Linked DNA regions of Homo sapiens. The protein of the gene in region 3 purifies or fractionates together with the protein of the main gene of each other region. This does not show direct contact. Each region holds a gene or a part of one and is shown on either strand. Other genes may lie near its edges. The genes, in order: CPNE3, SUCLG1, ANXA5, PLS3, POGLUT3, HARS1 and HMGCS1.

What was found.
Region 1: the proteins of ANXA5 (region 3) and CPNE3 purify together in Homo sapiens (affinity purification with mass spectrometry, with the first as the bait; one large-scale study listed by BioGRID). This does not show direct contact.
Region 2: the proteins of ANXA5 (region 3) and SUCLG1 fractionate together in Homo sapiens (co-fractionation; one large-scale study listed by BioGRID). This does not show direct contact.
Region 4: the proteins of ANXA5 (region 3) and PLS3 purify together in Homo sapiens (affinity purification with mass spectrometry, with the first as the bait; one large-scale study listed by BioGRID). This does not show direct contact.
Region 5: the proteins of ANXA5 (region 3) and POGLUT3 fractionate together in Homo sapiens (co-fractionation; one large-scale study listed by BioGRID). This does not show direct contact.
Region 6: the proteins of ANXA5 (region 3) and HARS1 fractionate together in Homo sapiens (co-fractionation; one large-scale study listed by BioGRID). This does not show direct contact.
Region 7: the proteins of ANXA5 (region 3) and HMGCS1 fractionate together in Homo sapiens (co-fractionation; one large-scale study listed by BioGRID). This does not show direct contact.

What each region holds. Positions count from the first base shown.
Region 1 is NC_000008.11:86,552,358-86,556,321, reverse strand, and holds part of CPNE3 (copine-3), read right to left. Parts: intron 1,472-3,964; coding exon 1,338-1,471; intron 221-1,337; coding exon 1-220. UniProt on the Homo sapiens protein: Calcium-dependent phospholipid-binding protein that plays a role in ERBB2-mediated tumor cell migration in response to growth factor heregulin stimulation.
Region 2 is NC_000002.12:84,428,111-84,432,074, forward strand, and holds part of SUCLG1 (succinate--CoA ligase [ADP/GDP-forming] subunit alpha, mitochondrial precursor), read right to left. Parts: intron 3,550-3,964; coding exon 3,398-3,549; intron 1-3,397. UniProt on the Homo sapiens protein: Succinyl-CoA synthetase functions in the citric acid cycle (TCA), coupling the hydrolysis of succinyl-CoA to the synthesis of either ATP or GTP and thus represents the only step of substrate-level phosphorylation in the TCA.
Region 3 is NC_000004.12:121,679,594-121,683,557, reverse strand, and holds part of ANXA5 (annexin A5), read left to right. Parts: intron 1-80; coding exon 81-194; intron 195-1,796; coding exon 1,797-1,887; intron 1,888-2,749; coding exon of another isoform or gene 2,750-2,802; exon of another isoform or gene 2,803-3,964. UniProt on the Homo sapiens protein: This protein is an anticoagulant protein that acts as an indirect inhibitor of the thromboplastin-specific complex, which is involved in the blood coagulation cascade.
Region 4 is NC_000023.11:115,644,273-115,648,236, reverse strand, and holds part of PLS3 (plastin-3), read right to left. Parts: intron 3,217-3,964; coding exon 3,138-3,216; intron 2,166-3,137; coding exon 2,051-2,165; intron 1,836-2,050; coding exon 1,702-1,835; intron 688-1,701; coding exon 564-687; intron 345-563; coding exon 220-344; intron 1-219. UniProt on the Homo sapiens protein: Actin-bundling protein.
Region 5 is NC_000011.10:108,495,169-108,499,672, forward strand, and holds the start of POGLUT3 (protein O-glucosyltransferase 3 isoform 1 precursor), read right to left. Parts: upstream 3,217-4,504; 5' UTR 3,199-3,216; coding exon 2,997-3,198; exon of another isoform or gene 2,793-2,996; coding exon of another isoform or gene 2,633-2,792; intron 2,051-2,632; exon of another isoform or gene 1-2,050. UniProt on the Homo sapiens protein: Protein glucosyltransferase that catalyzes the transfer of glucose from UDP-glucose to a serine residue within the consensus sequence peptide C-X-N-T-X-G-S-F-X-C. Can also catalyze the transfer of xylose from UDP-xylose but less efficiently.
Region 6 is NC_000005.10:140,677,542-140,681,505, forward strand, and holds part of HARS1 (histidine--tRNA ligase, cytoplasmic), read right to left. Parts: intron 2,343-3,964; coding exon 2,247-2,342; intron 1,587-2,246; coding exon 1,461-1,586; intron 475-1,460; coding exon 367-474; intron 213-366; coding exon 114-212; intron 1-113. UniProt on the Homo sapiens protein: Catalyzes the ATP-dependent ligation of histidine to the 3'-end of its cognate tRNA, via the formation of an aminoacyl-adenylate intermediate (His-AMP). Plays a role in axon guidance.
Region 7 is NC_000005.10:43,292,725-43,296,688, forward strand, and holds part of HMGCS1 (hydroxymethylglutaryl-CoA synthase, cytoplasmic), read right to left. Parts: intron 3,194-3,964; coding exon 3,028-3,193; intron 2,138-3,027; coding exon 1,967-2,137; intron 1,439-1,966; coding exon 1,332-1,438; intron 250-1,331; coding exon 124-249; intron 1-123. UniProt on the Homo sapiens protein: Catalyzes the condensation of acetyl-CoA with acetoacetyl-CoA to form HMG-CoA, which is converted by HMG-CoA reductase (HMGCR) into mevalonate, a precursor for cholesterol synthesis.

The DNA.
Region 1 (3,964 bases), on a different chromosome or scaffold from region 3:
AAGGCACAAACTGGACAATATCTCTGATGGCCACTTCGCCCAATGGGGAGCGGAGACTTCCACCATCACCATCCAGAAACTCCATGGCGCTGAAGTCAGCACCTCCAACTCCAACAATTATGATGGACATAGGCAGCCTGGAGGCATTAACTATAGCTTGTCTGGTTTCATCAAGGTCTGTGATCACACCATCAGTAATAATCAAAAGCACAAAATATTGCTGCCAGAAAAAGAAAACATGTCCCCTGAGCAAGTCAAGCAATGGCTAATGGCATCTCTGGCTTGATGAGTCATCCAGTCTTTCTTGTTCATTTTCCTTGCCAGTCTCTACCCTAGCTACCACCACATAAAATATTCTAAGCTTCTCTGATGACAAGGAAATTGACTCTTACAAAAACTGCAGGTTCATTAAAAGCGCAGCAGACCACAAAATAGGGTTGGCAAAATATATGGAAGCAGGACATCTAAATGTCAAAGATTAACCTTTCAGTAAGGCTAGGAATAAACAGTTTTAACTCAAGTATTAAATATGTCAAAGTATCTATCAAGGAGGCAAGTGGAAACTTCATTCTCAGAAGATCAAATAAATACAAAAATTATTAGAATTAGAATATTAGAATACAAAAATTTTAGAAGCTAAAATACACACAAAAAAATAGATATGGTTTAAGTGATGAAATCATCCCCCAGATTGTGTCACCTAAGATAAACCTTTTCAGAGAGCAGTAAAATGTTACATCAAGTAGTGACTCCATCTTTTGGGCCATTTAAGTCTAGAATAGGAATAAGATTTACAATATTAGTTAACATATGTTGAGTGTTTACTCTGACCCAGGCATTGTGTACTTTATATGAATTATCTAACCTTTTCAACAACAGTATGAGGTAGTTTCCCCTAACTTACTTCTGAATATGCTGAGGCTAAGAGAAATTTGGTATCCACGGTCCAATAGGTAATGGTTACCTCATTCAAATATCTTTAGTACAATAAGAAATCTTGCAACAGCATCTGATGTGGTAACTTTCCTTAAGCTTAATTTGTTATGTCTACTTCAAAAAGGTAGATGATAGGCATTTTTTTTTTTTTGGTAGAACCTATCTAAGAAAGTTAATTCCAAGGATAAAAGACTCATGAATGCCAAGTGTTGTTTTGCTGTTGTCTTATTTTTAACGATCACTAGTATAACAACAACAAAAGTTACTCCCAAACCAAGAATGACTGTGTTATTGTATCTTGCCCTGACTTTGTATTATGACAAACCAAAAACATAGAAAAATGGCACCAGGAGCTGCTACCAATCCACATTCTTCCCATTCCCTGGCCATAGAGCACTTACAGAAGCTGTCTGCTGTTGCGTGGCTGCAGCAGCAAACCTGGCCACGTGATTTATGATTGGAGAAAAATTAGTTGGTCCATAGAGTTTTATCTGAGGAAGACAAGACCGATACGCCTCTACAATGCCTTGGATTCCTAGAACAAACAAACAAATAAAAAACAGTACTAAAAATTCTCAAGCACAATGTGTTTATTCACAATACTGGCTAATTTGATTATATGTATCAACATATAGTGCTTTAAATAGTCAAAAGTTCTATAAGCAGTAGTTCCTCTAAGCTATGTATTACATAACTCCATAGGTATGATCCATTGCAAAAACCTATAAGCTCTGTCCTCCCCCAATAGAAGGGATTTACTTTCATCTCAGTCAAATTACTTATTAGTCTACGGTAGGACTGTTACATCTGTGCTTAATTTTTAATACATGTTGGGAATGTGGCTCTGATAGAAAACCATGAAAAAGGTTTCACATCATACAACTGATGATGAAAGGTAAGAAAGAGTTATTAATAAAATGAAAAATCATTTGCATATATGGCCAGAGGTTCTACAAAAATACCAGATGGCGATAAACCTAATATTAATTCTAGTTAATTAACTGATACAAGTGTTTATTCAATAAGTTAAAGGTTAATCATTGTATCACAGACTGCATTAGTTCCAAATATTCACTTCCAGGTTACTTATCCATTTTGCTGCAGAAGCACTGATGTGTTTGTTTAGGGGTACTACCCCTAGACCTGCTGGTGCATTTTATAATAGAAAGTTGGACAGGACCATTTGATTAGCTTTGACCAATGCATGTGACACCCATACCTAAGGAGATGTCTTAAGAACTACTGCCTGTTTTTTCCAGCTCTCTTGCTCCTTTCCTCTGCCGTAGGAGCAGCACATCCCAGATAAGGCTGTTCCTTCAGCCTGAGTCCCAATATAAGAAACATGGAGAGAACTCCAGCCTAGCTGCATGTAAAATGAGCAAGAAATAAACTGTTGTCATTAAAGCCACTGAGATTTAGAGATTGTTTATTACAACAGCACAACCCAGTGAAAGCTGACTGACATTGCTGGTCAAAGCACTGCTGATGAAACTTGTATCCCACACAAGCACCTGTTGAATCTGCCCTTAATATCACAGCATTTAGGATGCAGACAGGATAACAGAAATTCTAAAGAATTTCCAACAATACTTGCTGAGATCATCACAGATACTTGCCACAAAAAAAAAAAAAAAAACTTAATGTAAATCAAAACAGGTCTCTTGCTTTTAAAATGTCTAAGAGAACACAGATCAACAAAAAGGAGAAGCATATACAGTCATGTGTCACTTACCAATGGGGATAAATTCTGAGAAATGCATCGTTAGGTGATTTCATCATCGTATGAACATCATAGAGTATACTTACACAAACCTAGATGGTATAGCCTATTACTCCTAGGTTAAAAACCTGTACTGCATATTGCTATGCTGAATAATGTAGGCAATTATAGCAACTGTACCTTTTCTATGTCTTTACAGTAAAAATAAAATATTAAAATCTTATGGGCCTACTGTCATACATGTGGTCTGTCCTTGACTAAAATGTCATTTTTAGTGCATGACCATACTTGGCTTGAAAGCTTCAGGAAACCAACTCTCTTCTCTTAAAATGTAAGAGTTCCAATAAACTCCTCTTAGTTTCTTTGAATTTAGGAACAGGTAGTCTTATGAACAACCTTTGAGAACATAACTAATTCATAGGCAGGGGTGATTTTACATGCAGAAGGTCCATGTTACTAGTAGTCAGTCCAGTAGTAACAAAGGTATAAATAATTCATTTAGGGCTGGGCACGGTGGCTCATGCCTATAATCTCAGCACTTCGGGAGGCAGAGGCAGGTAGATCACAAGAGGTCAGCAGTTCTAGACCAGCCTGGCCAACATGGTGAAACCCTGTCTTTACTAAAAATACAAAAATTAGCCGAGCGTGGTGGCAGGCGCCTGTAATCCCAGCTACTCGGTTGTGGGCGGGGGGGGGGGGGGGGCGGGCTGTGGCAGGAGAATTGCTTGAACCCGGGAGGAGGAGGTTGCAGTGAGCCAAGATCGTGCCATTGCACTCCAGCCTGGGGGAAAAGAGCAAGACTTCGTCTCGAAAAAAAAAAAAAAAAAATTAATAATAATAATAATTTCTTCACAAATATCAAGAGCTTTCAATTCCTTAATTAAAACTGAATTATGCCAAAACCCTTTCTATGCATCAAAGTAACAAGTTATTTCTAAGGCATATTATTTCTAAGGCAACTAGATTCAATGATTAGTTAGGAAAAGGGGATTAAACTTCCTTGCCTTAAAATAAGGCTCTGAGCTTTTTGCTGTATAGTATCTCCTTTGTTTAAAACCAAACTGATGCTTTTTCCAGAGTGTAAACCACTTGGTGAACAGCCCAAGGATGGGCTTACATTACTCACAGAGTGACTGAACTTCTAAAATGAATTATCATATGATATGTCATCCATATTCATTTACAATAAATGAAAGCTAATTACAACAAATTCTAAAGATTATCCACTTTCATTATAAAAATGAAGCATATTTCTTAAAAAGAATAACATTCCCAGTTTCAAATGGCTAGGGAATAAAAGAGGTCACA
Region 2 (3,964 bases), on a different chromosome or scaffold from region 3:
TCTGTGCCTTTGCTGAGAATGCTCTCCACCCTCCTTGGATGCTTGGCAAACTCCTACTTAACTTTTAAGATCTGACTCTAGCTTCCTCTTCCCCATAAGCCTTTTCTATCTCTCCCTCCCACCCTCCCCACAAATGCCCTCATAGGTGATCATCTCATCAGTGACCCTGTTGTGCCTTTTACACCCTTCTACTATTAAATTCAGCACACTGGCTATAACCTATTCCCCGTGTGTTCTTCTACTAAACTATGAATTCCCTGAACACAGAGGTTATATTTTCACTAACTTCGGTATGCCTGGCACCTACTGTAGTACCTATGGTATAGAATTAAAAAGAAAAGACTCCACAAATTATTTACTCATTCACTCATAAGATCTACATAGAATATGAGAATCTCATGTTTGAGTGGCATTAATTTGTATTTGATTCCACTCCCCTGTTCCCCAAAAAGTGGGAATATTGTTGCACTAGAAAGGATCAAGACTTTGTTGAGCCTAGAATGGCAAACAAATTTGCATCTGTCCCATTAACAAAGAGCCATTGGAGGCTTATTTGTTTTTGTTTTTTAAGTGGAGAGAACTACAACTAAAAGACTATGGGGAAGTGTAGTCTGAAAATAGGACACAAAAATGATGAAAGGTATGTCTAAAAACAGAAAGGCCAGTTAGAATGCTATCAGTGTAGTCTGAGCCTATGCCCAGGATTGATGACTCTTTGTCCTTAACTCCTTCAATCTGACACCTCATCCTTCCATGGTGAAATGGAGAAGTCAGACAAACCTGGGTATGAATCTCACCCCAGTTCGTTTGCTGTATACCTACCATTGTCAAGTTACTAATCTTCCTGTACCAGTTTTCTCATTCATAAAGAAAGAACAAAAACAACTTACCAAAGCATCAGGATAAAAGTTAAACACCAGAACGTTTGCAAATAATTATCATCATTGTAATGATAACAAGAAAGGCAGCAGCAGATCATGTTTATCGAGTGTTTACACCAAGTATTACACTAGGCATTTTATATAATGCAGCATCTGAACTGCTTAACTTACAATCTTGTACACATTAGGTTCTCAATAAAAATTAATTCCATAACAACTAACCAGGAATAGGAAACATGTTGCCAAATGAAACAAAATGTCTATGTTTCATTTTTCCCACTAAATACTAGGCTATTCCAGGGATTCAGAATTGGGCCCAAATACATTTTAAATTCAACTTAACACAGCACAATGCTGTATTAACCGAAACTTTTTTTTTTAAAGAAGTCAGTTTTTACTTATATTTCAAACTGTACAACTTTCTGAACACAAGGGAATCTAACATTTTACTCCAATCCTTAACAATCTACTCTTCCATTTACATGACCTGTATTGGTGCCCACTGTGCCAGGGGACTGGGCAGGGCACTGAAGTTAACAGTTCCCTGCAGTCCATAACACAGTCTAGAGTGAAAGTCAGATACTAAGCATTCCTTGCAGAAGGAACAAGCAAAGGCAAGTGAGAATGAAAACTGGCATGTCAGATGGAAAACTGATCTAAAAGGGAAGGTTTGGATGGTATGTGAAGGACTGGAATACCATGCTAAATCTGCCTTTAGCTGACATGTAATGGGAAACATTACATGGGAAACACTGTCTGATGTGAACCAAGGACAAACAGCACCAATACCCATGTTTCAGAAGGGCAGATAATTTGGGTGGCCATAAACAGAATGGCCTAAGAGTAAAGGGGGGTGGTTGGAGAAAATAAGAGAGATCAAGAAGGAAACCACTGAGATGGTCCAGATGAGATGGGATGAGGACCCAAACCAAAGTAGATGGACTAAGTACAGACAAGGCTCTGAATCCAGACAAACCTCTGATGTCTCAGAGACAGATCTTGGTAACTGAGTAGAAACAGGATAAGAGAGAAATAAAAGTTAGTTCTCAGGTTTCTGCCATAGAAATAGGCACAGAAAATAGATCCAGGGAATGATAAAGAGGAGGAAAACCAGAAAGAAACCAAGAGGATGGAGAGGATGACGAATGAATCAAGGCCACTGGTGACCTCTGTGCAAACACAATGTCAGGAGAGTAAGAAGATTCCACAGCAGCCAGTGGCTCAGTAAGAGTGCTTACTAAGTGCCGGGCACTACTTTGCTATACGTTACTAAGTCATTTAAACTTCGCAGTCCTTACAATAACTCTAGGAGGCAGGCACTACTATATCGTCATTTTTCCAATAAGGAACCTGAGGCAACGAGAGATTAAGCATTCCCAAGGTCATATAGCTTCTAAGTGACAGACAGGAGCCTGATTGCTGAGGATTCAAGAATGAATGAAAAGTAAGGAAAGAGAATGAGAGAATGAGGGTAAACCTGAGTCATATCTAATATGGGAGTTAGGGCTTAAAATCACCACAAAAGAAAATCAAGTATATTCAAAATAGCCCTTGAAAATTCCTTAAAACACAAATAAATATGCCTTGTTTTGTGTAAACCACCCTGTACATGATATTATTGGTTCCTTTAACTCTCCAGTATTATTTTATGTGGCATTTAATTCATTCACTGGTGGATTTTTTTCATACATATAGAGAGAAAGTGATCTCCACTCTCTTGCCTGGTCCCCTGAAGAAAAATTTTCACTCATTCCTCAGTATAAGAGAAATTCTGAAAATCAGTTGCTTGATTTTTTTCCCACAGTTCTCTGACACAACAATGGCCACAGCACAAATTCACTGAGTGGGGGCTGGTGGCCACCACACTGCTTCAGTCACTACCGCACCCCCATCTCTCCTTTCACCACAGGAACAGGGCTTAACTCCCTCAAGCTGAATGAAATGATGACATAACTCAACACTACTCCTTTACATTTAATTCTAAGTGAGAAGCAACAAGGAAAGCCTCCCCAGGACATAGACAGTAAAGCTTTTCTACTTGATCTCTGAAGGGAAGTGCCATTCCACAAGGAAAGTCTAAAACTGGAAGGAAGCCAGAGCCTGAAAAAAAGCACAAGGGATAGGATCTTTAGGTCAGCCTTGAAAAAGAGAAAAAACCACTTATTTCCCTCTGAGATCGGGAGAAAGAATACTGGTCACAGGTGAAAACCAAGTCTGCAGGTCAAGTGCGGGCTCTCGGGCTGATGGCCTGAATGTATCTGTTCAGCAGGAGAACGACTTACCTACCACAAAGTGTGGGGTGATGCCTGGGGAGGAGAGTTCAGAATAGAGAAGCAGAGAATCAACCCAGAAATAATACAGAATTGTCTGAGTGTCCAGTATAGAAGGCCCTGCTCAGAAAGTTTTATCTTTCATGTTTTCTCAAAAAATTCACCTTTGAAAAAATAAAAATAACTTCTGAAACAAGCCTCTGATATTAAGAGCAAAGAGCTATGTTTTTCCAAACCCAAACTTACTGAATTATGTTGCTTCAAAAATTCTGCAGCATTCTCTTCTGCATTACCACCAATTTCACCAATCAATATGATGCCTTCTGTGGCAGAATCGTTCAAAAAGATTTCGAGGCAGTCAATAAAATCTGTTCCATTAAAAGGATCACCTCCAATGCCTGAAAAAGTTGAAAAATATCAATAGCTGGAAATTTAAGGGTGAACCATGGAATTTAGGTCAATAAATGTTTTTAACTAGTTTGTCATTTTTCTTACCCTTCTCTCTTATATTTTTAAATGTATCATTGCTCTTGCATTTAATATTTAAAAAATCACAAAATGCTACATTTATTTCTGTTGGTAATATTATATAAATGCTAAATGGTGGTTGGTTCCTGATATTCTAGGAATATTCTAGGGCTGTAACGAAGACAACCCTCTTTTTGTTTTAGCTCCTTTATCAAGCCTCTTCTGTCCCACAAAATTATTCCCAGATAACTCCTTAGAAATGAACATTTTAAGAAAATGTGTATCTGTGTTGCATGCTGATGTTACACCAGAGGAAAGAATAAACATTTAACAAATTTCTTTGAG
Region 3 (3,964 bases):
CAAAGGACTGTCATTCATATTTAAGAAGAATCTTATTACAATTTCTGCTGGTTAACAAATTTGTATTTTCTGTGGGTTAGGATCTTCTGGATGACCTGAAATCAGAACTAACTGGAAAATTTGAAAAATTAATTGTGGCTCTGATGAAACCCTCTCGGCTTTATGATGCTTATGAACTGAAACATGCCTTGAAGGTAAAAAGGATGAGTGAAAGGAACATTCTTGCATAGATAGTATTATTTTGTTTTGGTAATTACTTCCTCTTATTTGTTATATTTAAAAAATTTTATCTGATTATTTCAGTGAGAGTTGCTTGGCAGACAAAACTGGGAGGCAATAAGCAGTAAAGGAGGGAGAAAATTACACGTGTGTCATTTCATCTTTTTGTAGATTTAAACTCAATAATACTGGGCTGTTTAAAATTTTCATATTTTTATAGCTTTTTGTATTTTATTTTCATGCCTGTCTTCTGATTTTGAGGATGTTTAAAAAATATTACAGATGAGCTATTTTATCTTTTTCAGTAGAAAATTGCCTGATTAGGGAACCATAATATTGCTCATCATTTTAGGTTAAAAGGTAAAGCTTCAGAGAGAATTTTCAAGATAAATATTTTCTCATACTCTTTCCTTCTTTCCTGCCCCTCTAAACACTAAAATGAAGTAGCTGGTAAACTTGCTATAATTTCAGTTGCAGCAAAAATTAAATATGTATTCCCTTGACTGGTGTTTGGAATGTTGTATAAATATGAAGGCATTGACACATTTGTTTAGGCTCATGGGACAGGAAGTAGTTCAGTTGTTAGCTGTTAGATTTTGAATGGGCACATTGAGATTTAACAAGGAAATAATGTTTCTCAGGGATTCTTACTGATGGAGTGGAGAGAGGAGAAGGGTCATCCTGATAGGAGCTGGTTTGTGCTCAGTCTCTTCATTTTCCTATGGTGATTCTTTTGGAATAAACAAAAATCTGAGGTTATTGAGAAAAGCACTTTTTTTGCTAAGTACTTCTGAAATGTCAGCAGTAGTTGAAATTCTGCCAGAGAATGAACTCTAGGTTTTTCAGTGCTTGATTTTTGGCAAAAAATAGAAATATAAAGAAAATAAGGCTTCAATATACTATCTTTTAAAAAAAATTAAGTCCAGCTATATCGTTGCATCTCTTAGTTTAATCATATAGATGTGATTTTTAAAAGCAGAAAAAGGAAAGCCAACTAAAATGATTTTTCAAAAATCCAGAAAGCAAGTCCCAATTCCTTTATACTGTTCTAATTCCTAATAATTAAGTATTGCTATATTTATTGTTACCTTTGATGTAGAATTTTCCTGTGACTGCACAGCACTTAACTTGGGGGTCAGGGGTTTATCTTTTGAGGTGCTTATTAAGTATCAGTGCTCTTCCATGTACATTTACGTGAAGTTTTCATTTTTACTCTTTCGGTTTTTAAAAAATTACTTCATGTTTCATGAAAATGTTTTACTTTTAAGCTAGAATTAACTGATCAAATTAAAAGTTACAAATTTATGTAACTGGTTATGTATACGTACACATATATACACACATACACATGATAAACATTGTTTTCCATTAGGCAAAAAGAATAAAATGGTCTTTGGAGAGAAAATCATTTAAAACTTGTTATTTCTATAACTAATAGAACTCATATACAAAGAAATCCATGTTATACTGGATAATATTTATATAACTATGCAATTTGGGTAACATCTATAACTTTCTTTTAATAACTTTCTTTTTAATCTTATTGACATGTTTTCTCTATTAAAATCTCCAAACAGGGAGCTGGAACAAATGAAAAAGTACTGACAGAAATTATTGCTTCAAGGACACCTGAAGAACTGAGAGCCATCAAACAAGTTTATGAAGAAGGTAAATGTTTGTGAGTTATATTTTGACTTCACCTCCACTATCACTTCCTTCATTTCTGTGATTTGAATGCAGTCCTTTGTAGGTATGGGAGGCACGCAGTAAATGATGGATGAATGAATGAATGAATGAATGACCTGCAATTCAAGCTATTTTTCTCCTTCAGTAAGGAAAAGACTGCCTTGTTATCCTCTACTATTTTCATATTTTATAAGAAGCTACTGCTGAAGATGGAGTTTACTTTTGCATAGGATTTGCAATTAGTGTAGGGATATACAGGTTGTCTTTATGTTAACATTAAGGTAAAAATGGTTTTTCCTCCTTTAAAAATATTTAGCTTTATGCTAGCAAAATTTAGGAGTTATATAAAAAGTACTTTTGGAACTTTGGAAGAGAAACCTAAACCCTTTCCCACATCAGAGTTGATAAAGTACATTTGAGTAAATGTATGTTGTCTTAGCTAATGGCAGTGCTTGAATAAAATATTCTGCATTTTGATTTTTCTTTTTAGTGTGTCTTTTATATGAACAGAAATCTGCATTTCGGCCTAAAATATGTCTCATGAATAGAATCAAGAAAATGAAGTAAAAAGTAGAGGTAGAGAGTCCTTTTCTTACCAGATTTCTTGTAGCCAACTCTTTCTCCTGCCTGACTGAGGAGGGTCAGACTATCCAGTTTCTCAGCTCAGTCAACAGACTCCAAGCCTAGTGTCTTTTGCTAGGGGCTGTATCTTGCCATTAGTTTGTTAATCTTAGAAATGGCTTTGTTAACCCAGCAAGTCAAAACAGCAAAAAATTGTTTAGAGCAACTGTATAATTACCTTTCTAAAGGGCTGAATCTCTCTTTCCTGCTTCTCTTTTTATAGGCAGTAAGTTCCCAACCGCTAAGGCAGAAGTGATACATGTATCTCAACTTTGAACTTTATTTGATGTACTATTCAAAGATCTCTTTCTGGGGATGTTGACGTTGATGAGAGCCTTTGTGCTACTGGATTACAAATGGTGTGCTCAAAGGGGGTAATAACTGTGTGGTCTGTCCTACTCAGCCGTGTAATTGAGCACTGGCTATGTGTCTGGCAGTGTGTTAACAGGCTGTCATGAGTGACAAAAGGTGTGCATAACACAGCTCCTGTCCTCAAGCAGTTTGTGTGCAGTCTCCTCAGTGGGTGACATGACAGAATGACTGCAATATTTAAAGGATAATGAAATTCAAACTAAAGTAAAATACCAATGATGTTAAATGCAATAATGCATTCAGAAGAGAGAGGTCATCATAGCTTTGGATGTTAGGGAGGCTTCATGGTACAAATCACACATGCAGCAGAGTTTCAAGACTAGGTGGGTTTACAAAGTGTCCATTGACAGATGAATAGATAAAGAATACGTACACACACACACACAAACACAGACACACACACACAGGAGTACTGTTCAGTCTTAAAGAGGGGAAATCCTGTCATTTCAACATCATGGATAAACGTGGAGGACATAATGCAAAGTGAAATAAGCTAGGCACAAGGCATAAGCTATGCATGATCTCACTTCTTATGTTGAATCTAAAAAAATTGAACTCATAGAAACAGATAGTAAAACAGTGTTTGCTAGGGTGTAGGGGTGGGGTGAATGGGAGAAGGGACTGGTGAAATATTGGTCAAAGCATACACGATTTTAGTTAGGCAGGATGAATAAGTTCTGGGGATCTCATGAACAGCGTGGTGACTATAGTGAAAGTATAACTATTATATGCTTGAAATTTGTGAATACAGTATATTTTAAATGTCCTCACCACACACAAAAATATAGACTATATGAAGTGATGGATATGCTGATTAACTTGATTGTGGTAATCATTTCACAACGTACACATATATGAAAACATCATGGTGTATACCTTAAATATATACAATTTTTATTTGTCCATCATAACTCAATAAAGCTGGGAAAAAAAGACTAGGTGCATTTTGAGTAGGTAGAAAAGATATTTTTGGGTGAGGTACTGCCTGTCTTTAATGGCATGGAGACTGGACTGTGGAGAGTGTATTGAGGGACGGAGAGGGCCTGGCTGCTGTGGAGGATGTGTG
Region 4 (3,964 bases), on a different chromosome or scaffold from region 3:
GGCCAAGCACAAGGCTAGGCTCTTATAATTTTTAAAAATTTAATCTTTATAAAATCTAAGGTAAGTATTATTGCCCCCAGTTTATTGATGAGGAATCTGAGGCTCCAAGAGGTTTCTCCCAAGGTGACACCACTCTTAAATGGCAGAACCTGAATTAGAATTCAGATCTGTCCAGCTACAAAGCTGCGTTCTTTTCATACTATTAGCAGTCTCCCTTACTTGGCATTATTGTGCTTGTCATCTTCTGTTAGATTGCCACTCTTCACAAGGTCATAGTTTATACAGCCTGGCTGGATGGCATCAATTAAATCCACAACTGCCAAACTGGAGCTGATCGTCTTGTCCTAGTGTGAAAGGAGAACAAATCTGAGAATTTTGATACATACAAATTAACATGTGCTTACTTATATCAAGTGCCAAAAACAAAGCCCAGTGAATTCGTAAAGAATTGTGCCATTAGCCCAACACTAATTCTCACTCACAAAGAAGCCAAAAGTTGCCTTCCCAAATGATAGATGTTATCCAGCAAACATAATATTTAATAGTCAAATATGGATTCTGACCTTAAAACTCTGAATGGAAGTTGATTTTCCAGCTTCACTCAACGTTCTGTTCACCCAGTTCACAATGATGTCGTCATTGGCTTTCTGACCATCTCCAAGATCTTCCAGGACATTGAGGGTATATCTAAGAGAGGCAGCAGAAGAAAACGTCACCATCTACTTTATGAGGAAAAATGCAAACATCAGAAAGATGCTTTATCTTCCACTTTTTATATTTCTTAAATTTTTCTTCTTTTTTTTGAGACGGAGTCTCGCTCTGTCGCCCAGGCTGGAGTGCAGTGGCGCAATCTCCTGCTCACTGCAAGCTCCGCCTCCCGGGTTCACACCATTCTCCTGCCTCAGCTTCCTGAGTAGCTGGGACTACAGGTGCCCACCACCACGCCCGGCTAATTTTTTATATTTTTAGTAGGGACAGGGTTTCACCGTGTAGCCAGGATGGTCTTGATCTCCTGACCTCGTGATCCACCCTCCTTGGCCTCCCAAAGTGCTGGTATTACAGGCGTGAGCCACCACTCCTGGCCCCTATATTCCTTAAATTTCAAGGACTAAAGATTTCATGGAAAGAGATTCACACTATGTGAAAAAAATATTTCAAGCAGTAGTGGCTTGCTACTGATCTACTCTTTGTAGTGGTGAGAGAGGAGCAGATTGACAGTGCTTTAATGAGCAGGTCCAACAGCCCACTGTAGGCACATTTTGTACTATTCCAATAGCGGTAATGGCATAAAATAAGCTGTGCTTTGGCTGGTGCCCAGTCATAATGAATGCTTTTCAGCATTATAGTGATCTTCATCAGCATTACAGAGAGAGATCTTTATTTTCAAATGAGCATGAAGATGTTCATAATTTTGTTCTGACAATTTTTTAATTCACTGACACTAAACGAGGCCGAAATCTGTGTGTCAGGCTTCCTATTTTTTAAAAAAGGGACTAACCATAGTTCTGCTGCCTAACTTGCAAGGAAGCATCTCCCACTTAACATCCAACATATATTCATTAATTAAACTCATTTCGGAGTGTAAATATAACATATTTCAAAAGTGTAGTTATCGACATATCCACTTATTAAACACAGTAAGGACTAAATCACAGACCTGTATGATAGTAAAGACTAAACAGCTAAAATTGTGTACTATACCTTCTCATCAGCTGCCAGACTAAAGCTAAAGTCAGGGTTTGGTTCCCATCATTCAGGTCTTGCCCTCCAATGCCAACCAGGGAGAATTTAGCAGGATGCTTCCCTAATTCAACAGCATAGTTGCAGTTTTCTAGCTGCAAAGGCACAAGAGTAAATGGTTAAAGACTTCCATTTGTTTAATCTGCATACGTGTGTGTGTGTCTTGTATAATGCTAGGTATCAGCACACAAAAACAAATAAGACACAGTTTTGTCCTCAAGAAGCTCAGCGTCAAGAGTTTTAGAAACAAAAGAAATTAATCGAGAATAAAAATACTCTAACAAATATATACAGCAACTTAATTATCTACCTTTTTCATGTTGGCTCCCAGTTTCGGGTATGGAGGTTTATTAACCTTACTCCAGTCAACAGGAACTTTAATTCGTTCATATAACTGTAAGATTACCAGGGCATCTTGCAGGTCACTAATGATTTAAAAATAATGTAATCAGTGTTTTCAGGAAGCTGGGACTTGACTTTCCTTAAAAACAGTAACACTACATTGTCAAACAAGATATATAAAACCATAAATAATACCCAAGACTCATATTTTCTATCAATCTGTGCTGAAAACAGAGCTAAGACCATCCCATTCATTTATAAGTATTTATTGAGAGCTTACTGTAAGCAAGGCACTGTTCTAGAGGCTGGGCCCACAGGACAAAAATCCCTGTCCTTGCATTAGAGTCAGAGAGATAGACAATAAACAAGTACATGGATAAACAAACAATACGGGGGGTATTGGTTTGTTGACAATAAACAAACAATTTTAGGGGTGTATGTAAGTGCTATTAAGAAAAAAAGGAACTAGGGTTAGGGGTTAGAGAGTAGCAGGTGGTAGTCAGGAAATCTTTGAATCAGTGACTGGAATACAGTAAGGATACGAGCCACTATATGCGAGCAAAGAACGTTCCAGGCTGAGAGAACAATGAACCAAAGTCCCTGAGTTGTTGTGGATGGTCTACTTAAAGGATTCCCTGGTCTCTGTTTCTTTCTTTTTTACCTTTCTTTTTTTTTCCCTCTTAGAGATAGGATCTCACTTTGTTGCCCAGGCTGGAGTACAGTGGCACAACCATAGCTCACTGAAGCCTCAAACTCCTGGGCTCAAGCAATGCCCCCACCTCAACCTCCCAAACAGCTGTTTCAAAATATAAAGTATTTGCTCCCTAGGGTACTATAAAGACATTTATATATTCTATCACTTACAGTTAACGATCATGTAAAGGAATACTTAAAGCTTTTGTGTATTTGGAAAATGATGATGGAAATCACCACTTGACATTTTCCAATATAAATAATAGCTACAAATTAATATCTAGAAAATCTTTAGAGCTGTCATTATTTAACATCCATTCATGACATTCGTAACTGTTTACAATAGCAGTAGGAAGGCTTACGCATAGAGATGGTTTACGTGAGGATTGACACCAAGAGAGTTCATCCAGTTACGGAAGGTTCTTTCTTCACGAGTTTCTCCTGTTAAGAATATTCACAAAATTTACTGATTCATTAAACACTTTATGTATGTGCATATAGTGCCAATACACATATTAGATTATTTTATCTCTCTATTCAGATCTAGAATTTTTCGATAATACGAGTTTCCAAGCATTCTTCTAAGTACATACATTCTCTCTAGGTACAGGCTTATTTTTAAAATTTGAATTTATTTTAAAATTAAAGAATACAACCTTATTCTAACCAGTTAAGCAATTTAGAGGTTTATGAACTTTTTATAGTCTCCTTCTCAAATCTTTCTCCAATATTTCCTCGAATCTGCATCCCTCAAAGTAACTGATGTTATCAGTTAAGTTACTGGTTTTATAGAAATATCAGTGGACACTCAATGAATTACTATTTGCATTATTTATTTATTTATTTATTTATTTATTTATTTTTGAGATGGAGGTTTGCTCTTGTTGCCTAAGCTGGAGTGCAATGGCACGATCTCAGCTCACTACAACCTCTGCCTCCCAGGTTCAAGGGATTCTCCTGCTTCAGCCTCCCGAGTATCTGGATTACAGGTGCGCACCACAATGCCTGCCTAATTTTTTGTATTTTTAGTGGAAACGGGGTTTCACCATGTTAGCCAGGCTGGTCTCGAACTCCTGACCTTAGGTGATCTGGCCACCTTGGCCTCCCAAAGTGCTGGGATTACAGTCGTGAGCCACCGCGCCTGGCTGCATTTCTTAATTTTTATAGACTACGCTTCACACATATATAA
Region 5 (4,504 bases), on a different chromosome or scaffold from region 3:
AGGCTACAGCTTGAGAAGATTTTTCCTCTTTTCCAATTAGTTCTTTTGTGTGTGTGCAGTGGCACAATCTCAGCTCAATGCAACTGCAGCCTCCCAGGCTCAAGAGATCCTCCCACCTCAGCCTCCCCAGTAGCTGGGACCACAGCTGTGCACTACCACGCCTGGCTGATATTTTGGATTTTTTTGGTAGATGGGTTTTGCCATGTTGCCCAGACTGGTCTCAAACTTCTGAGTTCAGGCAGTCTACCAGCCTTGGCCTCCCAAAGTGCTGAGATTACAAGGCATGAATAACCAGCTATTCAGTTGGTTCTTGAAGAGGGAAAGACTTCAGGACTTGGAAGTGAATGTTGGTGGCAGAAATGTAAGAAACTAGTTGGGTGAGTTTTCAGAACTATACGGCACCTTTTTAACTGGAAGCCAGAAATCAAGAGGCCTGAAAGGAAACAAAGGGAATCCAAAGGAATGAAAGTAAGGTTGTCCAAAAAGTTCCATTTTATTTATTTATTTAGAGAAAGGGTCTTGCTATGTTGCCCGGGCTGGAGTGCAGTGGCACAATCATAATGCACTGCAACCTTGAGCTCCTGGGCTCAACTGATCCTTCTGCCTCAGCCTCCCAAGTAGGTAATTTTTAAAATTTTTATTTTAAGTAGAGATGGAATCTTGCTATGTTGCCCAGGCTGAGAAGTCTTTCTAAGACTAAAAAAGGTAAAAAAAGAAAAGTCACAGATCACAGGGGTAAACCATGCAGAATCATAAATGTAACTTTCCTTCTGTTAAGATATTTAATAGAAACTGTCTGTAAACTTTTTCGTTTGTTTAAATATATTTATGTATATATAATATATGTACATATAAAACATATACACAACTTTAAGTCATGTATCATTTGGATTTTAACTGAGAGTCTTTAACATACATTAGAGATTGACAAACTAGCTAATCCAGCTCAGTGCCTGTTTTTGTAAATCCTGTAAGCTAACAATGATTCTTATATTTTTAAAATGGGGATGGGCATGGTGGATTATGCCTGTAATCCCAGCATTTGGGGAGACTGAGGCAAGAGGATCCCTTGAGGCCAGGAATTTGAGGCTGCAGTAGCTATGACTGTACCACTGCACTGCATCCTGGGTGACAAAGACCTTGTCTCTTAAAAAAAAAAAAGGAGGAGGGGGGTTGGAGAAAAATCAAAATAATAATATTCTGTGACTTATGGAAAACTATATGAAATTGAAATTTCAGTGGCCATAAAAAGTTTTATTGTAACATAAACGGGTTTGTTATATGTCCATGGCTACAAAGCACAGCTGAATAAATGTGAGAGATGATATCACCTACAAAGCCTAAATTATTTACTATCTGGCCCTTTAAAGAAAAAGTTTGTGAAACCCTGATATACACACATGCGTTTCTGTCAATAGAGTCGGAATTATTTTACCTAAATGCATATCATGCATATGAAACCAGTTGTCTGAGTATTTAGGGTCTAACTGGTAGACACGTTATCAAAGCAATGCCCAAAGACAACTTCAGGAGTGGTGTTCTGAATCAAATGTAGAAAACAAGCCACTGAGGTAGTTAAGGGAGAGGCAGATTCTTGCCTCAGCTCAAATTTCTCCAGTGGCTCTCTTTTATCTAGTTATAAAGTCATTTGCTTGGCATTCAAGGCGCTTGAAGACCAGAGGCTACAATCAACCAGGCTTTTCCGCTCAGTATCATTAAATTACAGTACTTATTTTCCCGAACACCACGGTCTCCTACGCCTCTGTGCTTCTGCACATGCCATGGCGTCCTTCTATATGCCTGCCCAGCAAACCTTCTCATCCTTCAAGTCTCTGCTCCTGAAATCTTCCTGGATTTCTCCAGTCTCTGGCAGTGCTTCAATGTTGCCACTGCACTCTGTACATACCTTCAATTATCTTGTACAGTGATCAGTTATTTGCATGTCTTTGACCAACAGACTGTAAGTTCCTTGATGGTCAGGCATTGTCTTTTCATCCTTAGATTCCCAGCAGAATTACCAAACACAGAAGTAGACATCAAAGAAGTATTTCTTGAATGAATGAAATTTTAAAAATCATTAAATCTAAAAGTGAATTATGTTTGGTTCCTAAATTCTCTGCTTTGCCCAGCTGTCAAGACCCCCTTACCCCTTTCCCAAGTTGGGACACACTTCTGGCAGCTATGTTCCCAGCTGGACTAGCAGGGGCAGAGGCACTGGTTTATTCTAATTGTCTCTTCGCTGATACAACAAGGTGCTAGTTGGCCAGAGCCCCAAATTATACATTAGCAAATCCTGACTGACAACAGCGTGAAACCAGCAGGACAAGTTTTAAGAAGTTGCAAAGGTTAAGACGTGAAGGACAACGTGGGAGGAGGACCGGGCAGAAAGGGATTCAGGACGAGATCCATCTCACCCTCCGTGGAGGGAAAACCGAATGATTTCTACTGAGTTTCCCTAGTTCCTGTAATCTGCTTTCAAAAACTCAGAACTAAAAAGGAAACAAAAAACTAACACGTAAACCCCTCCTCCTTCCTACGGCTCTGACATTTCCTCTGCGTAGGATTTCGTTGCTCCAAACCCACCAGGCCTAAGCCATGTAATCCGACGCGATCCGTCGGCTTGATGACTCACCACTGGAAAGCGCTCCCTGCAATCCCTCACAGTTCAGACAACTAAGTCCGAGATGGAAGGCAACGTGTGACTCACGGCACACTCCTTGTAACGCCCGGGCGCCGTCCATTCGCAACATCAGTCCCTGCACATTAAATGCGGAAGGGCCCTTCAAGTTCATTCATTCATTCATTCCACAAACTTTCGTGGTGATTTTTGCCCGCTTTGAGTATGGGCGGGAGGAGGGAAGAGGAGCTGACCAGACCCAAAAAGGGGCGACACACGCCGGGGAGGGACGCCACGCAGGCCGCGGGCGGACTCCCGGGCGGCGGGGACGCGCGGGGACCCGGCCGCGGGACGAGGGAGGCCGGCGGCTGGACACTACCTGCGGGAGAGCGAGTGAGGTTCTGGCCCTCCGAGTTGACCGCCTGCAGGTAGAAATAGCGGACCGGCAGGACGACGGCCGCCTGCAGCCCGGGCCCCCACACCAGGCTCCGCGGCGCGCTGACCAGCACCTCCGGGGCCCCCGCGGCCACCAGCAGGGCGAGGCGCAGCTGCAGCAGCAGGGCCCGCGGGAGGCGGCGCATGGTCGGCGGGGCACAACTGCGGTCCAGCTCCGCGGCGGCGAGGAGGGGCCGGCAGCGCCGCGGACCGGGCGGGGACTGGGGCCCACCGCGGGGCGGGTCTTTCGGGCGGGAAAGATTGCGGCGCAGGCTCCCTTTCCCGCCCGCTGTCCCGCCTCGTCTCCCTCGGGCGGGAACGCGAGCCAGTGCCGCAATCACCCACTGCGCGCCCTGTAGGGGTCGACGATGGGTGCGCCCCTTCCTCCCCGCAGCCCCATAGGCCCCGTGGAGGAAAGGGGTGGAGAGGCCCGCCCAGAGACCGAGGCTGCGAGTGTGCGCTGGCTGTTGATTGCCAAGGCTTCAGGCACGCCTGGCCTCCACTTCCAGTGGTCTTTCCCTTTCTTTTTCTTCCTTCCTTTCCTTCTTTCTTCTCTTTTCTTTCTCTGTTTTTATACAGACAAGGGGGCTGGCTCTGTCGCCTAGGCTGGAGTGCAATGGCGCGACCACAGCTCACTGCAGCCTGGAACTCGTGGGCTCAGGAGATCCTCCCGCCTCAGCCTCCCGAGTAGCTGGGACTGACTGTAGGCACACGACACCACGCTGGCTAATTTAATTTATTATTATTATTATTATTATTATTATTATTATTATTATTACTATTACTATTTGTAGAGACGGGGTCTCCCTATGTTGCCCAAGGTGGTCTTGAACTCCTGGTTTCAAGCAATCCGCCCGCCTCGGCTTCCCAAAGTGCCGGGATTACAGGCATGAGCCACCGGGTCCGCCGCTCAGGTGTTTTTAAAGGACGTAGACCCGGTGGTGATTGTTGTGGGACGATGAAAGGGTCCGGCCCCAAGATCGATGTAGTTTAGGGAAATATCTTTTCCCAAGGAATGTCTCCGAGTTTACAAGATGAGCGCCAAGGTCACGCCCCCCGCCCTCCCTCACAGCCCTCTGTTCACAGCAGCACCGTTCTCTTGTGGCCGGTTTTGTTGCTTTTCTGCTTAGCAGCCTCCCTCACAGAACCGTGATCCCCCCACCCCACACATCCCTTTCCCCGCTTCCTCCCGCACTCCTCTTCTTCCAGCAGGTGTTTACAGAACATCCACGGAGTTTGGGCCAAGCCCAGAGTGAGGAGCTGGGCACTGGGGTGGCAGAAGACCAGGCCTTGCCTTGAGCCCTTGTGCGAGCTTTACCTCAAAGCCTCTGTAATCGAAGTGGGAGAAGGGGTGGTGGTGCGTGGTTGGTCTCAGCCACCTCCACCACTCCTCAGAAGATGAACGCTGGATCCAGGAAGAGATTGTCAAGGTTACTATCTGCCTCTCTTTTT
Region 6 (3,964 bases), on a different chromosome or scaffold from region 3:
AACCTTCCTCTGGTGGGTATAGAGGCATGCACCTCTCTCTCTCTCAATCTTGTTTTCCATTTCCCAAGGCAGGGTGGGATCTGGGAAAAGAAGTCAAGTACTTGGGTTGTTACCTTGTCCAGCTTGTCTACTGAGGAGCAGATGGTACGGAACTTGCTGTCAGAAACACCACAGATAGCAAACATCCCATCTAGAATGCGTCGATCGTTTACCTGCAAGGAACCAATGCATAGTGAGGGGGGAATCTCTTTTCTTACATGACCTGCAATAGTCATGGTCACTTAGGCTACTGGTCCCTCTGCACAAGGATCTTCTCTTGTGAGAGGCCAGGCCCAACTTTGCCCTCCCAGCCTTGTCAGCTCTGACCTTGACCAGGAAGTCGCCTATCTGAAGTGAACTCAGGATCTCGCACATGATCTTCAGGCACTCTGCATCAGGGATCATGGGATCAAAGTTCCCAGCAATGTCAAAATCCTGCAGGGAGAGGGTTAGCCAGCGGTCTTCAGGGATTCACCTTTCTGAAGGGGGGACTCTGGGAGCTCTGTCCTCTAGGAAGGCCTGGTTGCACTCAAGCATAGAATTTCTCTTTCATTTTCTGATCATCAGCCCAGAGGTAAACCCCGGCATCTTTGGGCTTCTCACCAGTTTTGGTTTCCTTTCCATCTACTGGGCTATTCCTTCATTTTCTACTTCATCATCTTCTTAACTCCTCCTACTGGATGGGGTGATTATATGGCTTTAGTGCTTAGCCATTTTCCCTATTCATCCAGAAGCCCTGGCATCAGTCTGGATGATTTGATGTATCAAAGCTAATTTCCTTATTCTCTGCTGTGATCCTATCACTGTGGTTTAAAATAAAGAGCACTGGACCAAGAGTTCTAGTCCTGACTTTGCCTTTCTTATCCCTATGATCTCTTCATGGGCTGGGTATCAAGTTTACTCATATGTAAAATGAAGAGACTTTATTCTCCTCCCCCACCACAGGGATTTTGTGAAATCTGCATGAAAACACCATAGAAGAGGCTGGGTGCGGTGGCTCACGCCTGTAATCCCAGCACTTTGGGAGGCCGAGGCAGGCGGATCATGAGACCAGGAGTTCGAGACCAGCCTGGCCAACATGGTAAAACCCCGTCTCTACTAAAAATACAAAAAATTAGCCGGGCATAGTGGCAGGCGCCTGTAATCCCAGCTACTCAGGTGGCTGAGGCAGAAGAATCGTTTGAACCCAGGAGGCAGAGGTTGCAGTGAGCCAAGACTGCACCACTGCACTCCAGCTTGGGCAACAGAGCGAGACTCCGTCTCAAAAAAACAAAAAACAAACAAAAAAACCACCATAGAAACCCTAAGAGCATTATCTGGGTCATCCAATTTGCTCAGGACACCGTGAGTACTCAATAGATTCTGCTGGCTTGAGAGAGCCCCAAGTAACTCATCCTGCCCCACGGTTTCCCAACACTCACACACTGGTAGAATTCCCGGTATCGGCCACGGGTCATGGCTGGGTTATCCCGCCGATATACCTTTGCTATGTGGTAGCGTTTAATGTTGGTCAGTTTATTCATTGCCAAATACCGAGCAAAAGGAACCTGATGACAAAGAGTTAAGGAGAAAGCCCCTCCTATCACTGTCTGCAAGTTGATTATCATCACCAACAGAAGCTGGGGTCTAACCCCTCCCTATGTGGGTAAAACTGCCACCCATAAGATTAATAGCACTTACAAACATCAGAAAGCATCAGCTGTGCTACCACATGAGGTAGCTGAAGGCTCAAAAAAGATTAAGGCACCTTTCCCTTTTGTAGTGTTGACTGGACTTTTTTGAGCATGGCAAGGGGCTGGGCAGGTTGGCCACAGACCAGAAAAAGGCGACCAGAAAAAGGCCCCCATATGGGATTTCTAAGCAGATGATTCTCTGTGTAGCTTGGAGACAAGGGAAATGTGTTGCTAGTCCATTAAGAAGAATTTTGTTCACTGGACAGGGCAGGGGAGAGGTATTCTGGAGCCAGGGGATGACTGTAGAGTTGGAACTGGGCCCTGACATCAAGCTGAGGTCTCACTCAGGATTCAGAAGATTTCTAAGGATGTGTATGCTCTGTTTAGCCAAAGTTCCACTCCTGGTTTAGAGAAATAATTCCCCTAATCGCCAAAGGCCTCATATTTGATCCTACCTACTCTACCATTCTTAAACCTGAGCCAAGTGAGTGCCAATCCATCCAAAGTCTCAAGAGCCCAAGTTTAGAAAGATACAGTGAGGTCATAGCGAAGGGACAGGAGCTCCCCGCCCTGGTCCTTCAGGTCATAGATAAGCTTGGAGTCTTCCCCATACTTTCCCATCAGTGTTTCCTGGAGAAAACATAAATAAATGTGGTCATAATAATAAACATAACAATTTAAAAGGAAGTTTTGAAAACAAACATGACTGATTCCAACTTGTCTACATTTCCCTCTGCTCTTTATCCCAATTCTTAGGTGTCTGATGTAGTTATCATTAAAAGGAAACACCAATTTTGTGTTTTTTTCTATTTTGATTTTGTAACAGAGCTGAAGTATTTTTCTTACACATTTTCCTCTTAAAAATCTTTTTTTTCTTCAGACTTCTCAGCATGAAGTTTGTTTTTTTTTTTTGAAATGGAGTCTCGCTCTGTCACCAGGCTGGAGTGCAGTGGCGTGATCTCGGCTCACTGCAACCTCTGACTCCGGGGTTCAAGAGATTCTCCTGCCTCAGCCTCCAGAGTGGCTGCGACTACAGGCGGGTGCCACCATGCCCGGCTAAGTTTTGTATTTTTAGTAGAGACAGGGTTTCACCATGTTGGCCAGGATAGTCTCGATCTCTTGACCTCGTGATCTGCCCGCTTCAGCCTCCCAAAGTACTGGGATTACAAGTGCGAGCCACAGCGCCCGGCCTGAAGTGTTTTTAAAAGATGCATAAATTCCAGTGAGAAGAAGCTCTGTACTTACTTCCTCCCTCATGTTATACTGTTAGGTGTTTAGGTTATTCTAATTTAAAAAAAAATTTTTTTAGGCCAGGCATAGCGGCTCACGCCTGTAATCCCAGCACTTTGGGAGGCCAAGGCGGATGGATCACCTGAGGTCAGGAGTTCGTGACCAGCCTGGCCAACATGGTGAAACCCTGTCTCTACTAAAAATACAAAATTAGCTGGGGGAGCTGGTAGGCATCTAATCCCAGCTATTCGGAGGCTTAGGCAGGAGAATCGCTTGAACCCGGGAGGCAGAGGGTGCAGTGAGCAGAGATCGCACCATTGCACTCCAGCCTGGGTGACGAGAGTGAAACTCTGTCTCAAAAAAAAAAAAATTCCCCATAACATTTCAATATCTAATATTTAGGTATATAGCTCTTTTTTTTTTTAAAAAAAAGTATTTTTCTTGATGATAAACTACTAGGAATAGGTTATCAGACCAATAAACATAAATGTTTTTTGATGCCTGAGATTCGAATAATGTCAAAAGTAAAAACTGGGGAATGTCTTAAGGGCATTACAGCAGTCCTTGCCCTGTGATGTCTATCATCGGTAATAGCATATTTCACTTACCAGGTTGGCAAAGATTAAAAAGCCTGAAACTTCCCAGTATGCAGTATCAGAAACAGTAACACACTAGTGTTACGGGCTGAACTGTGTCCCCCTGGCCCCACCCTCCCCAATTCATTTGTTTAAGTCCTAACTCCCAGTAACCTCTGAACATGTCTACATTTGGTGATAGGGTCTTTAAAGAGATGATTAAGCTAACATGAGGTCTCCAAGTTGGGCTCTGATCCAATATGTTGTTGTAAGAAGAGAAAATTTAGATAGGGACAGAGGGAAGACGATGTAAAGACAAAGGGAGGCTGGGCGCGGTGGCTCATGCCTGTAATTCCAGCACTTTGGGAGGCTGGGGTGGGCGAATCACTGGAGGCCAGGAATTCAAGACCACCAACCTGGTCAACATGGTGAAACCTCGTCTCTACT
Region 7 (3,964 bases), on a different chromosome or scaffold from region 3:
ATAATTTTCACTGACATCAGATTAGTACTGAGTAAAGTCTTGATATCCTTATCGTATATGTAGCATCCTTAATGATATCAGCCCTCCAAATGGGTTAACTTAAAGAACATTTAATATTTTTACCCAAATGATGGGTGTCCTCTCTGAGCTTCATGTTTTCAGCGAAGACATCTGGTGCCACACCAGTTCTTGAATCAAGCCTTGATTTAAGATCACATAAACTTGCTGTTATTTTATCAAGAGCAGACCCTAAAATAGTGAATAATTCAACATTAAAAGATTTTTTTGAAAAATCATGTCCAAAAGAAGCCTAAGTAAAATGTTGCCAAATGAGGCAAAACAACTTTTCATTTTCATTAAAACTACTGGCTACTGATTAGTTAAAAGATAAGATGATACCTATTTGACAAATCTCCTATGATGTCAGACTAGAAATCTATTATTGAGTATCTGCCACTAGACAAGTTAGGAAACAGGCATAATTTGAAACTATAAATAACTTGTCTACAATTAATCCATGGTACAATTATTTTATTTTTATTATTTTTTATAGAGATGGGGTCTCACTATGTTGCTCAGGTTGGCCTTGAACATCTGGCCTCAAGCAATCCTCCCACCTCAGCCTCCTGAAGTGTTGGGATTATAGGTGTGAGCCATTGCACCTGGCCCATGGTATAATTTTAAAAAGTAATGTCAAGTTTTCATCAGTTTATCTCTACATTTTTGCTCTTTCCTGCTCAGGGAAAGCACAAAAGTGACCTTAAATATAGCCAAGACCATAAGCCTATAAAAATTAGATAACTTAGTCCTATCCTTTATCCAGATAAGGTAGAATTTTTTTTTTTTTTTTGGATAGATTTTTAGGGCAGAGAGTAAAAACCTACTGAAAGAAGTAATGAAGACTAAAATATTGTAATGATCTGTGGGACAGATTCAGGTGCTCACTTGAGAAGACTGCTAAATCAACTTCCCCAGAGTAGTTCTCAATACATTTTTTTTTTTTTTTTTTGACAGAGTCTCGCTCTGTCACCCAGGCTGGAGCACAGTGGTGTGATCTTGGCTCACCACAACCTCCCTCTCCTGGATTCAAGTGATTCTCCTACTTCAGCCTCCCAAGTAGCTAGGACTACAGGCATGCACCACCTCACCTGGCTAATTTTTGTATTTTTAGTAGAGATGGGGTTTCAGCCATGTTAGCCAGACTGGTCTCGAACTCCTGACCTCAGGTGATCTGCCCGCCTCGGCCTCCCAAACTGCTGGGATTACGGGTGTGAGCCACTGTGCCTGGACTCAGTTCTCAATACATTCTTGTTGAAAGATTCAGCACTTACCCGGTGTAGCATCTTGTGTGACTTTAAGAGAGTACAGAGTGGCAGCCAAACCAGAACCATAAGAAAACACTCCAATTCTCTTCCCTGCTAATTGCTGAGGTGAGTACCTATGTAGGGTGTAACAATAGTTCAGAAGTTTAACTGATCCAAAGCTACAGCGTGTGGGAAGCTATAAAAGTAGCAATAAAAATTTAGGCTATAAGTAAAAGTAGAATCTAACTTAAAGTTTTAAGGATCTAACTCAAAGTGTTAATATTGCAGTAGGGAATATAACTTAGTTTTAATATTGCAGCATGTGAGTTTTCATCTTGTGGGGAATGACAGAGCTTGTGAAAGTCATGCCACAAAACAAGTTACTTCATCAACCAGGTATTTATGGTTCAACTGTAGGTCAAGAATTAAAAAACCATGAAAACAGAAGCCAGGAAAGCCAGTATGAAATTAACAAATACTTCTGGAAGAACTGTAGCCTCAACCCATACATCTTTCAAGTCAATGGACAATAGCAGATTAGAGAGCCTCAAGATAAAATTTTCTGTGATCTACCACCAACATGCTTGACACTAGATTTGGTCTTAGAAATCTAACATCTCCCAAATAAGGGGAGTTAAGTAGTAGGTGAAATTTATACTTACTGTGCTAGAACAGATGCAAGGGAACCATATACTGAAGATGTGTACATATTTCCATTTTGATTTGATACAAGTAAAGATGCCTTTGTTTTCTGACTGAAGAGTTCAGAGCTAGCCTTCATAAATGCCTTCTCCACATCTCTATCAAAGTAGGTGTCTTCTAATTTAACATCCCTGAAAGATTTATTTTACAGTTTTACAGTGTTTAAAGCCTATGTTTTTATTACACTAAACAGCAGGCCTAATTAGGATTCAAATCTTTAAGTGTATATAATTGTTTTCTCATTTATTAAAAGCCAAGTAGCAGCAATCTAATTGCTATAGAAATCATAACAGTTGTATATATATGGTTCTTTTTCTCAAAAGTTTTCATAATCAAGTTAAGCCTGCTTGATTTGAATAGGTTAAAAGACGCACTGTAGCTTTATATTTATATTCACTTATATTGGCTTCAATGAATAGAATATTCAATCAACTGAATATTCATCAACTGAATAGAATACTATTTCAAGTCCATAATAATGTTTATTTAGTTAGAAAAGTCATGGTATTACAGGAGCCAAGTTTTAAAAGTCAAGTATAATTTTATCAGATAGAGAAAGGACACACAAGAGACACAGGGAGAAACAGAACGAGTTGAACACACATAGCATGCTAGGGAGCCTAAAGTGAGAAAAAGACAGGTGGAGTACAAAAGCTGACTTTAGCTGTGGCAGTGTGCAGGATGGAAAAGGGCATGGGGGCAGGGGTGCTGAGAGAGGTAAGGAGTTAAGAGGCTGCTGTAGTGAATATAGGCCCTTGTGCAGTTACTTTATCGTGACAACATGAATGGAGCTGAAAGAAATAAATCAGAAAATCTGAATAGAAATGTCTAAAGAATTTGTGCATGTTAACTACCACCTCTCTGGACTTAGATTCTTCACTGACTGAGACACACAGATTAGACTGGATGACTTCTAAGATTCTTCTGACTCTCAATTTCTCAGGTCTGTACAAATAACAGCTTAACAGATATTAAAAATGCTCTAATATAGAAGGAAAAAACTCATAATAGCTCCTCTTACCCAAAGGCTTCCAGGCCACTATAGATACTATTTTTATCTCTATTCTGGTCATTAAGGAAGTCATTCAGCAACATCCGAGCTAGAGATTTCTGAACCAGTTTACAATATGGTGAGTGAAAGATCATGAAGCCAAAATCATTCAAGGTAAAATCTTTATCATTTCCCTCTGAAAGAGAAGTCCAAGGAAACTATGAAATTCATATAAGCCATGAAATTTTAAAGTTTGACTTTAGAATAAAGCTAGGATATTTGTATATGTTTAAACAGCAACCACAAATACACTGTATAATGAAACCTCTCTATACCTTAAAGTATACATTTAAAAAGACACTCAAAGATGAAACAATATGTACTATGTCACTAATTTTCAAATTTAAGATTCATACACATTAGCAGGTTACATAATCAATTTAGTGGGTCAGGATTAGTATTTTTTTTAAATAAAAGAGTATTTTAAAAAACAAAATGCAGTAGAAAAATAGCAAACTGAATAACTTGCAGCAAGGGTAAGTAATGTCATGACATTTTTGTTTCAGTCTGGCATACACATACAATGTAACATGTACTTCTTACTGTGGGTCCTAATAAAAAAGTTAGAAAACCACTATTCTGTTAATATATACTGCAAGAATGCTTCTTATCCAGAGCGACTAAATTCACTGATATTTGTCATTGAATATGATTTTTAACCCCTTCTCATAACCTCTAAAAAGCAAAGTTGGACTACAGAAAAAGTATACTTTATGTAATAATGTGTTATGATAGCATTAACTCAAATACTGTCCTTTCAGTGCCTCAACAAATTTCCAGATTAATGATAACAGTAAAAAAACAAATACAAATTCACAGGTCAAGTGCAAAAAGATTATTTTTGGGGTAAGATCACTTTAGTAATTCATTTTCATTAGCTTTCCCTGAATCACAGCTGTAGTCCAAA